Linked DNA regions of Homo sapiens: region 1 is linked to region 2. Evidence: fine-mapped expression QTL. A gene starts in region 2. The other region holds a variant in brackets. All regions are shown on one strand. Distances are from middle to middle. Region 1 overlaps VSIG10 (V-set and immunoglobulin domain containing 10). Region 2 holds the start of VSIG10 (V-set and immunoglobulin domain containing 10).

Region 1 (5,334 bases), 36 kb after region 2:
CCATTATCTCAGGGCTTCTGTTGCATTATAGCCCTGTGTTCTGCTGGAAAGGTAAGGACTCCCTGGGTCCTTTAGCTTCTCTTCCAGACTTTTGAAAAGGTGCGGGATGGGGAAGGATGGCCCCTGCCTTGCTCCCACCTGAAGTTCTGTTCTCTGGGCTTCTTTGCTGGGTCAAGATACACAGTAATAAGTCACCTAAGTACCATCCCGGGACACCCTATCACCTGTCATATTGAGTCAGTTTTCTTATTTGTTCCTCTAGTAAATGTTTGCCTGATTAAGAACCTGTCAGGTTGAAGTGGATGTTACTGGATATTAATGGTTTTTCCTTTCTCTCTTCAGTAGGAAACACTTCCAGGTGAGTGTTCCCTAGAATCAAACCAAACACCCATTCCCGCATCTGTCTTCACTTCTGTTTTGTTCCCTTCCTTTCACAAGAACAATAATAGCAACTACCATTGAGGACCTACGATGTGCTAGACACTGGCCTAGGGATTTCATCAGGTATTCTTATAAACCCTTTCATCATCTCCTCAGGGTGGTGGTGACATCTCCATTTTCCAGATAAGGGGATGGAGGCTCAGTGAAGTAATTTCTGCAAGCTCATTCCAGAAGAAAGCAGCAGTGCCTTCCTTCAGGTCCAGGTCTAATCAATTCCAAAGTCTGTGTTCTTTTACAGCGCCAAACCTCAGGGCTGGACACATTGCAGGTCTGTCATTGAGACAGAAAGACAATGTGTACATTTTGAGCCAGTCATTCATGCATTTGTTTTATTTAATTTTCTAAAAAGAGCTAAAAGAAAGAATCAGTCATAGTCTTAAGTTTTTTTTTCTTTTTCTTTTTTCTTTTTTTTTTTTTTTTTGAGACAGAATCTCTCTCTCTTGCTCAGGCTGGAGTGCAGTGGTGCAGTCTCAGCTCACTGCAATCCCTACCTCCCAGGTTGAGGCCATTCTCCTGCCTCAGCCTTCCGAGTAGTTGGGATTACAGGTGCGCACCATCAAGCCTGGCTAATTTTTGTATTTTTAGTAGAGACAGGGTTTCACCATGTTGCCCAGGCTAGTCTCAAACTCCTGGCCTCAAGTGGTCTGCCCGCCTCGGCCTCCCAAAGTGCCGGGATTACAGGCACGAGCCACTGCACCCAGCCAGTTTTACAGTGTTTTGGAAGACTACTATGAGCATGCCCAGAACCCCCTCCCAAAAGGAAACCCCAGTAGGGGCGAAGGAACCAAACGGAACTTGTGTATTTCATTTCCTAAGGAGATTCTGGGTGGGAGCAGAGTACTCTTCTCTATGATCCTATGGAAAAACAGTTCTTTACCTCTTCAAAATGACAGGATATTATTGACCTGGGACCATCTTTCGTAGCAAAACATTACCTTTACTGCCCTGTATTGGAGGGCCATTCTTAGTAAGTCTGTCATTCCCTGGGCTTATTTCTCACTGGAGGCATCAGTGTGGTGTAGTAGGAAAAGGCACTGAGACCATTGGACCTGGGTTCAAATGACAGCTGTGCCATTCCCAAGCCCTGTACCCATAGAAAATCCCTGACCCTTTCTGAGCCTTAGTCTCCTGATTTGTTTCACCAGGGGGTTTGTGAAGATTAAATGACAATGTAACACAGCTCCTCGGGCAGGTGACTGACCTGTGGCGTTCATTCTTCTTCCTTAAGAAATGCATAGTCCAGGCCGGGTGCAGTGGCTCACGCCTGTAATCCCAGCACTTTGGGAGGCCGAGGCGGGTGGATCACCTGAGGTCGGGAGTTCGAGACCAGCCTGACCAACATGCAGAAACCCCATCTCTACTAAAAATACAAAAAATTAGCCGCATGTAGTGGCGCATGCCTGTAATCCCAGCTGCTTGGGAGGTTGAAGCAGGAGAATTGCTTGAACCTGGGAGGCAGAGGTTGCGGTGAGCCATGATTGTGCCATTGCACTCCAGCCTGGGCAACAAGAATGAAACTCTGTCTCAAAAAAAAAAAAAAAAAGAAGAAGAAGAAGAAGAAGAAATGCACAGTCCAGGCCGGGCACAACAGTGGCTCATGCCTATAATCTCAGCACTCTGGGAGGCCAAGGTGGTTGGATCACTTGAGGCCAGGCATTCGAGACCAGCCTGGCCAACATGTTGAAACCATGTCTCTACTAAAAATACAAAAATTAGCCAGATGTGGTGGCGCATGCCTGTAGTCCCAGCTACTTGGGTGGCTGAGGCAGGAGAATTGCTTGCACCCAGGAGGTGGAGGTTGCAGTGAGCCAAGATTGCGCCACTGCACTCTAGCCTGGGCAACAGCGCAAGACTCTATCCCGAAAAAGAAAAAAAAAAGAAATGTATAGTCTGAAATGCAAAGTCTGGCTGGGTAGGCAAGCTAGTGAGCTGGTGATAAATAAACTATAGCATGGACTCTAAATGCAGTCATTAATTTAGGTCTTTAGCAGGAGGGAGAGGACTTTACCTGGGTCTTCCAAAATGAGGAAGGGGAGAGATTTTGGTAAGTAGAGCAGAATGAGGGCATTTCAGAAAAGGAAAAACATTTGTCTACCTGCTGTAAGGGGACATGAAATGGTAGATGCCTGGGACAATATGGTCACCTGCCCAAGGAGCAGGGGAGTAATAAACCAGCATGAGATACCATCATCTGAAGC[A/C]ATTTGTGGCAGCATCTCTGCGGTTACCACACCATCACCTCATTACTTCACCAAGCTGTAATTTTCCATATTACTAATGGGGTTGCAAAGAATCTAGTGTTTCCTATTCAGTGAGGGCTGAAGTTGGGAAAAATAAGAAATCTTCTTGATTATTTTTCCCCTTTGGAAATTAGGGGACAAAACATGGATGATGTCATGGTTTTGGTGGATTCAGAAGAGGAAGAGGAGGAGGAGGAGGAGGAGGAGGAAGATGCTGCAGTAGGGGAACAGGAGGGAGCACGTGAGAGAGAGGAGTTGCCAAAAGAAATACCTAAGCAGGACCACATTCACAGAGTGACCGCCTTGGTGAATGGGAACATAGAACAGATGGGAAATGGATTCCAGGATCTTCAAGGTAAGCTCTTTTTCCTTAAACAAACAAACAGAAAACAAACAAAAAAAGGCGCGTTGGCTCACGCCTATAATCCCAGCACTTTGGGAGGCCAAGGTGGGAAGATCACTTAAGCCCAGAAGTTCAAGACTAGCCTGGGCAACATGGTGAGACTCTGTCTCTACGAAAAAAAAAAAAAAAAAAAAGAAAAATTAGCCGGTCATGGTGGTGTGCACCTGTGTTCCCAGCTACTTGGGAGGCTGAGGATCACTTGAGTGTAGGAAGTCCAGGCTGCAGTGAGCTATGATCACACCACTGCACTCCAGTCTGGGCAGCAGTAGGAAACCTGCCTCAGAAAAAAAAAAAAAAAAAAAAAAGCCCACAAACCTCTGAACTGCTGCGGTGAGCTTCCCAGCAGGAAATCTCTAAGGGGTGAGTTTAGTTTTTTTAAAAGGCTGGGGAAGATAGCTAAACTTTAGTCTAGAACCTGAGACTACTATCAACTACCAACATGAAAATCAAATTGACAAACACTTATCAAGGTCCTGGTCTAGGGTAGGCACAATATTGGCATTGTGGGAGAACAGAAAATAGAGACTGGTAGTGTCTGCATGCAGGGAGCTTTACAAGACCAGTTCAGGCCAGGTGCGGTGGCTCACGCCTATAATCCCAGCATTTTGGGAGGCTGAGGCAGGTGGATCATTTGAGGTCAGGAGTTTGAGACCAGCCTGGCCAACATGGTGAGACCCCCATCTCTACTAAAAATACAAAAATCAGCTGGGTGTGGTAGGTGCCTGTAATCCCAGCTACTTGGGAGACCAAGGCAGGAGAATCACTTGAACCCGGGAGACGGAGGCTGCAGTGAGCCGAGATCGTGCCACTGCACTTCAGCCTGGGTGACAGAGTGAGACTCTGTCTCAAAAAAAAAAAAAAAAAGGCCAGTTTAGGGGAACAAACTAAAACCTGCAGGGGAAATGGAAACAGGAGCAAGATTGAACCAACACACTGAGAGAGCAGTAGAGGAGCTGTTGCAGGAAGATATTTGATTAATTGCCTGATGGACAACACATTTAAAAATTATAGGCACGGTTGCTCATGCCTGTAATCCCAGCACTTTGGGAGGCCAAAGTGGGTGGATCGCTGGAGCTCAGGAGTTCGAGACTAGCCTTGGGAACATGGCAAAACGTGTCTCTACTAAGAATACAAAAAATTAGCTGGGTGTGTGGCATGTACCTGTAGCCCCAGCTACTTGGGAGGCTGAGGTGGGAGAATCACCTGAGCCTGGGAAGTTGAGGCTGCAGTGAGATGAGATCGTGCCACTGCACCAAAATTTATAGGACCTCAGAGAAAGATAAGAGCCCGGAGAGGTGTGCTGGTCAGGGGAAGCTTTATGGAAGAGGTAGACATGAAGCAAGGCGTTAAGACGGCTGAGTTGGAATAAGCAGAAAGGAGAGAGGGCGTTTCAGGTGAGGGGAGGGGCGTGAGCTGAGGACATGAAGGGTGACTGGTATCAAGCATGCCTAGAGGTTCTGAATGTAGAAAACAGGTGAAAAGGGGAAAACACACGCTGCCCTACCTTCTCCATGAGATCCCATTCTGTGGCTCACCAGGAAAGGACTAGAAATCACTGAGATGATTGATGACTGACGGTGGAAATAGAATCACACTCTGATTACAAAGCATTGGGTTTATTTCCCCCCATACAGATGACAGCAGTGAGGAGCAAAGTGACATTGTTCAAGAAGAAGACAGGCCAGTCTGAAGAAGAGGATGGTCCATGGTTGTCTTGCTCTGAAAGCTTGGAGAGCTACATTGAAGACGAGCTCTTCATTCAGCTTTGACTCCACCTGCACCCCTGGCGGGGGCTTGCACTAACAATGTTTGGGTCTCAGCAAAAAACAAAACCAAGCACACACATCTTTCCTTCCATGTATTGAAAAACATTGGTTTGATTTGCTCTAAGTTTTCCCAATGATGTTTAAAAGCTTTGAGAAGGAAAGCTGCTTTGGTGTCTGAGGTGCCACTTCTGCTGTGAATCCTGGCTTTATCCAGGTTGATCTACTGTGATAGATGCTGATTTAGAGGGAACAGAGGTCAGGGAAGCACTGGGTCTTGGTGCCTTTTGCCGCTTTTTTTTTTTTTTTTTTTTTTTTTTGAGACGGAGTCTCCCTCTATTGCCCAGGCTGGAGTGCAATGGCACGATCTTGGCTCACCACAACTTCTGCCTCCCAGGTTCAAGCGATTCTCCTGCCTCAGCCACGGCACCTTGCAAATATCAGCTCCTTGGAACAGGTGAAGTTCCAGGTACCAATGCCAATCAGAGGA
Region 2 (5,368 bases):
AGGCCGGGTGTGGTGGCTCACGCGTGTAATCCCAGCACTTTGGGAAGCCGAGGCAGGTGGATCACGAGGTCAGGAGATCGAGACCATCCTGGCTAACTGAAGGGGTGGGTTGCCCCTCCACACCTGTGGGTGTTTCTCGTAAGGTGGAACGAGAGACTTGGAAAAGAAAAAGACACAGAGACAAAGTATAGAGAAAGAAATAAGGGGACCCGGGGAACCAGCGTTCAGCATATGGAGGATCCCGCCAGCCTCTGAGTTCCCTTAGTATTTATTGATCATTCGTGGGTGTTTCTCCGAGAGGGGGATGTGTCAGGGTCACAAGACAATTGTGGGGAGAGGGTCAGCAGACAAACACGTGAACAAAGGTCTATGCATCATAGACAAGGTAAAGGATTAAGTGCTGTGCTTTTAGATATGCATACACATAAACATCTCAATGCTTTACAAAGCAGTATTGCTGCCCGCAGGTCCCACCTCCAGCCCTAAGGCGGTTTTTCCCTATCTCAGTAGATGGAACGTACAATCGGGTTTTATACCGAGACATTCCATTGCCCAGGGAGGGGCAGGAGACAGATGCCTTCCTCTTGTCTCAACTGCAAGAGGCATGCCTTCCTCTTATATTAATCCTCCTCAGCACAGACCCTTTACGGGTGTCGGGCTGGGGGCAGTCAGGTCTTTCCCTTCCCACAAGGCCATATTTCAGACTATCACATGGGGAGAAACCTTGGACAATACCTGGCTTTCCTAGGCAGAGGTCCCTGCGGCCTTCCGCAGTGTTTGTGTCCCTGGGTACTTGAGATTAGGGAGTGGTGATGACTCTTAAGGAGCATGCTGCCTTCAAGCATCTGTTTAACAAAGCACATCTTGCACCGCCCTTAATCCATTTAACCCTGAGTTTGACACAGCACATGTTTCAGAGAGCACGGGGTTGGGGGTAAGGTCACAGAATCTCAAGGCAGAAGAATTTTTCTTAGTACATAACAAAATGGAGTCTCCCATGTCTACTTCTTTCTACACAGACACAGTAACAATCTGATCTCTCTTGCTTTTCCCCACACTAACACGGTGAAACCCCGTCTCCACTAAAAATACAAAAATTATCCGGGCGTGGTGGCAGGAGCCTGTAGTCCCAGCTACTTGGGAGGCTGAGGCAGGAGAATGGCATGAGCCTGGGAGGCGGAGCTTGCAGCGACAGAGCGAGACTCCGTCTCAAAAAACAAACAAACAAAATTCCTGTCAAGAATCTGATGAACAGTTATTTTATTTTATTTTTTATTTATTTATTTTTTTTGAGACGAAGTCTCGCTCTTCTCCCCAGGCTGGAGTGCAATGGCGCGATCTCGGCTCACTGCAACCTCCACCTCCTGGGTTCAAGCGATTCTCCTGCCTCAGCCTCCCAAGTAGCTGGGATTACAGGCGCCTGCCACCACACCGGGCTAATTTTTGTATTTTTAGTAGAGACGAAGTTTCACCATGTTGGCCAGGCTACTCTCGAACTCCTTACCTCAGGTGATCCACCTGCCTCGGCCTCCCAAAGTGCTGGGATTACAGGCATGAGCCAACGTGCCCGGCTGATGAACAGTTATTTAAAAATATTTGAGCAAAGAATAAAAAAGGGCTGAGCGCGGTGGCTCGCACCTGTAATCCCAACACTTTGGCAGGCCAAGGCGGGTGGATCACTTGAGGTCAGGAGTTCGAGACCAGCCTGGGTAACATGGAGAAACGCTGTCTTTACTAAAATTACAAAAATTAGCTGGGCGTGGTGCTGCACACCTGTAGTCCCAGCTACTCGGGAGGCTGAGGTGGGAGGATCACTTGAGCCTGGTAGTTTGAGGCTGCAGCGAGGTATGATTGTGCTACTGCACTCTAGCCTGGGCAACTGGAGTGACACCCTGTCTCAAAAAAATAAAAAACAGAAAAGTAAAAAAGGCAGAACTGTTCAGCTTCATTGCTCAGTTCACCAGGAGAAACATTTTTTTTTTAAAGTGGTTTCAAGAGGATTTCCTCATGGAAGAAGCATTTCAATAAGGGGACCGTTGAACAACAGAACTAATGATTTTTTTTTAACGTTAATATTTATTTTGAGATGGAGTCTCGCTCAGTCGCCCAGGCTGGAGTGCAATGGCGTGATATCGGCTCACTGCAACCTCCGCCTGCTGGGTTCAAGCGATTCTCCTGCCTCAGCCTACCCAGTAGCTGGGATTACAGGCGCCCGCCATCATGCCCGGCTAATTGTTGTATTTTTAGTAGAGACAGGGTTTCACCATGTTGGTCAGGCTGGTCTCGAACTCCTGACCTTGTGATCCGCCCACCTCGGCCTCCCAAAGTGCTGGGATTACAGGTGTGAGCCACCACGCCCTGCCATATTATTATTATTTGAAACAGGAAGTTTCTCCTAGGGCTGTTTTATGGATGGCTCTTCCTGAGGATATCAAAGCCGCATTTTCCCCAGGACAGAATGGGATGAGGGCATGGCAGGGAAGAGAGGAGCTTAGCCTGGGAATCTGACTGGGTAAGGGGTGGGAGAACTAAAAGGGGAAAAGCAAAAACAAAACTCTTGAGAAACACGTCCTGGGGACTCCTTGGCTCTCGCTGTCACTGTGTGGTCCCAGCCAGTTCACTGGAGAACCGGAGTCTCGTGGCTGCTTTGGCTGAAAGTCAGGGGATCATCTTTCTCTGGCTCCCTTTTGCAGAGGGTAAGGAAAGGAAGCGATGGCGGCCTTGGCGCCCGCCCTGCGCCCAGGGACACAGACCGGAATCCCTCGAGACGCTCAGCGGGGACTGCCAGGGGGGTCCTGCGTTCTGCAGCTTGGCAACCGCTTCCTCCGGGTTCTGCAGCCCGGGGCAGCGGCGGGGGTTGCGTCCTGCGGCAGCTGCAGGGCTCCGTCCCGCCCGCTGTCCCCGCGACTCGGTACTGCTGTCCCGGGCGGAGTGGACTGGGGAGGGCCCAGCCTCCGCGCCCCGCCCCTGGCCCGGCGGGACCCGGCTCGGCGCGCCCTCGGCAGAAAGCCCTCCTCCCGGGCCAAGGTAGAGGAAGTTGGGCTCCCGCCTGGCTGGGAGGCGGGAGGGATCCCGCTCCTGTTGTTTTCCGCCGGCAGGAGTAGGCTGGCGGGCGCAGGGGGCGGGGTGCGCCCTCCCTCCCCGGCCAGGGCGCTCGGGAGCGGGGACCCGAGCCTGCAGCCGAGCTCCGCTGCCGGCCCTGGACACTCGGCTCAGCCAAGCATCCTTCCTGGGGGCCGAGGAAGTGGGGCCACTCTGCCGTTCCGAGGACCTGGGAGGAGCCCTCGGTACCCCGGGCCCCGGGGCCCTGGGGCACACACGTCCAGCCCAGCCCGAGCCTGCGTTTCCTGAGCCGGGATCTGGGGCGAGATGGCCGCAGGCGGCAGTGCGCCCGAGCCCCGCGTCCTCGTCTGCCTCGGGGCGCTCCTGGCCGGCTGGGTCGCCGTAGGTAAGGGGCCGCGATCTGGAGGGAAAAGTTGAGTTTTCCCAGTCAGCGGTGGGGAGGGGACAGCGAGAGACCCAATTCCCTCCGACTCCGCCCGGATCCGTGGTGGCCCCAGCCTAGAAGCTGCCCCAGGAGGGTCTTGGTTTCCTGCTCGCAGCTCGGCCGTCTTTGCAGGAAGGAGTTTTCCCGGGCGCCCGGTGCGGGGCGAGATACCCCCAGCCTCCTGGGGTGGGCAGCCGGTGAGGCTGCAGAGGAGCCGAGCCGAGCCGACGTGCGGGGGCAAAGTAAAGAGGCACGTGTGCCGGGAAAGTGATTTTTTTTTTTAAGCGTCGGATGTAAATTCGCGTTCTGGTTTTAGTAGTAACTGATACGCTGGTGCTCAAACTCGAGACTCCCACTTTATTTTTCTCCTCCCTCTGCCCAAGGTTGAACTCGCCTTACACCTGTAACCGGTGGACTTCCCTACACACCTTTGCAAGTCTTCCTGTGCCGACCAGCGCCTTCAAAGCGGGGTCTTCCGCCTTTACTTTTGGAAAAGCTTTTTATTTTGAAATACTTGGCTGACTTACAAAAGACTTCCCCTCACACTTGACATGATTGACAAAAGGTCTGAAATGCTTCATCTATGGTCTGCTTTGCTACGAAAAAAGAATTGGAGGGGTGCTTACAAAAATATGTAGAATGTAAAAAGATTGAACTATTTATATATATTTGAATTTAATTCACCAGCATGCCTACTGTGCATGCCTACTGTGTGCTGGGAGTGTGACAAGCTGGGAGGAGGCTGGGGTGCAGGGAGAGGAGATGGAGCCAGGAGGTGGTGAAGTTTGCCAGGATGCAGGCAGAGCGCTACTTTTTGTGTTCCCGGGTCTGCTCCACCCAACGGGTCTCCTCTTGCACGTTTCTGGAGATGGGTTGTAAAGTATGCTGGAGCTTCTTAGCAGCAAGTGCCAAGAGTTCCTAATTATTAGGCTCATACAATTTTATTTTGCTTTTTTTTTTTTAACCAACCATTTAAAAACAATAACATCTCTAGATTTCCAGTTTATCTGGAAAAATCTGAAGGTCTGGCAACACGGGGCCTGCTTTCCCAGTTGGAATTGGGCAGTGGTCATCCTCTTATCTAGGGCATATGAGCCCAAATTTGTTCCACCTCTCCCTGTTGTAATATTTGCCCCGCCACCTTCAGTCATGGGTGTTACCTGCTGGCCCTGCAGGCATTTGGCTGAGTAATCACTGTGCTGGGGTGTGGGTGATGGGGGAGGACAGTTCCTAGTTGGTCATCTCTGGACGTGAAAGGTGGTTGTCAAGTATTCCCATCTCCCCAGCTGTTTGCAGTGTTTCCTGCACGATGAACACCAGGAACCTGGGAAGTGAGAAGAACCCTGGGATGAAGTCATCCTGCTGGAATGACCTGGCTTTCAGGCTGACTGCCACCCGCCCCATGGGGAACCTATCTCCACTGCTATGGCCAGCTATTTTTTTCGAGCCAGGCTCTCGCTCTGTTGCCCAGGCTGGAGTGCAGTGGTGCAATCACTGCACTGATCCTCCCACCTCAGCCTACAAGTAGCTGGGACTACAGGCGTGCACCACCACGCCTAGCTAATTTCTAAAATTTTTTTGTAGAGACGGTCTCTACAATCGCTTGAGCCCAGGCTGGTCTTAAACTCCTGGACCCAAGCGATCCTCCTGTCTCGGCCTCCCAAAGTGTTGGGATTATGGGTGTGAGCCACCGTGTTGGGCCTTTGCCCAGCTATTTTGATGCCCAGACCTGCTTCACCTTTGTGTATGATGCCAGGGGGCTTCCTGAGCTTGGTGTATTTTTGTTGTGTGTTTGTTTTTTAAGTTGGGAGTTTTTGGGGAAAAAAATTTTTCTCCTGACATTCAATGCCAGACAACTTATATGCATCCACTAGCTACCCC

Evidence for each region.
Region 1: its variant is fine-mapped to the expression of VSIG10 in whole blood (TOPMed, PIP above 0.99).

What each region holds. Positions count from the first base shown.
Region 1 is chr12:118,066,076-118,071,409 of GRCh38, reverse strand. It overlaps VSIG10 (V-set and immunoglobulin domain containing 10), which reads left to right. Exons shown (of 9, transcript NM_019086.6): 6 at 1-51; 7 at 343-358; 8 at 2,813-3,033; 9 at 4,716-5,334. The coding sequence ends at 4,771. All of the region lies in intron 1 of LOC124903030 (a long non-coding RNA gene), which reads right to left. Among named protein-coding and RNA genes, the nearest start is that of WSB2, 7.6 kb to the right of the region's middle. The variant A/C (reference allele first, on the strand shown) is at 2,640.
Region 2 is chr12:118,101,673-118,107,040 of GRCh38, reverse strand. VSIG10 (V-set and immunoglobulin domain containing 10) reads left to right here and starts at 3,030. Exons shown (of 9, transcript NM_019086.6): 1 at 3,030-3,448. The coding sequence starts at 3,370. LOC124903029 (a long non-coding RNA gene) reads left to right here and starts at 3,459. Exons shown (of 2, transcript XR_007063478.1): 1 at 3,459-4,052; 2 at 4,774-5,368. RefSeq lists an enhancer at 580-1,295 and a silencer at 2,937-3,186.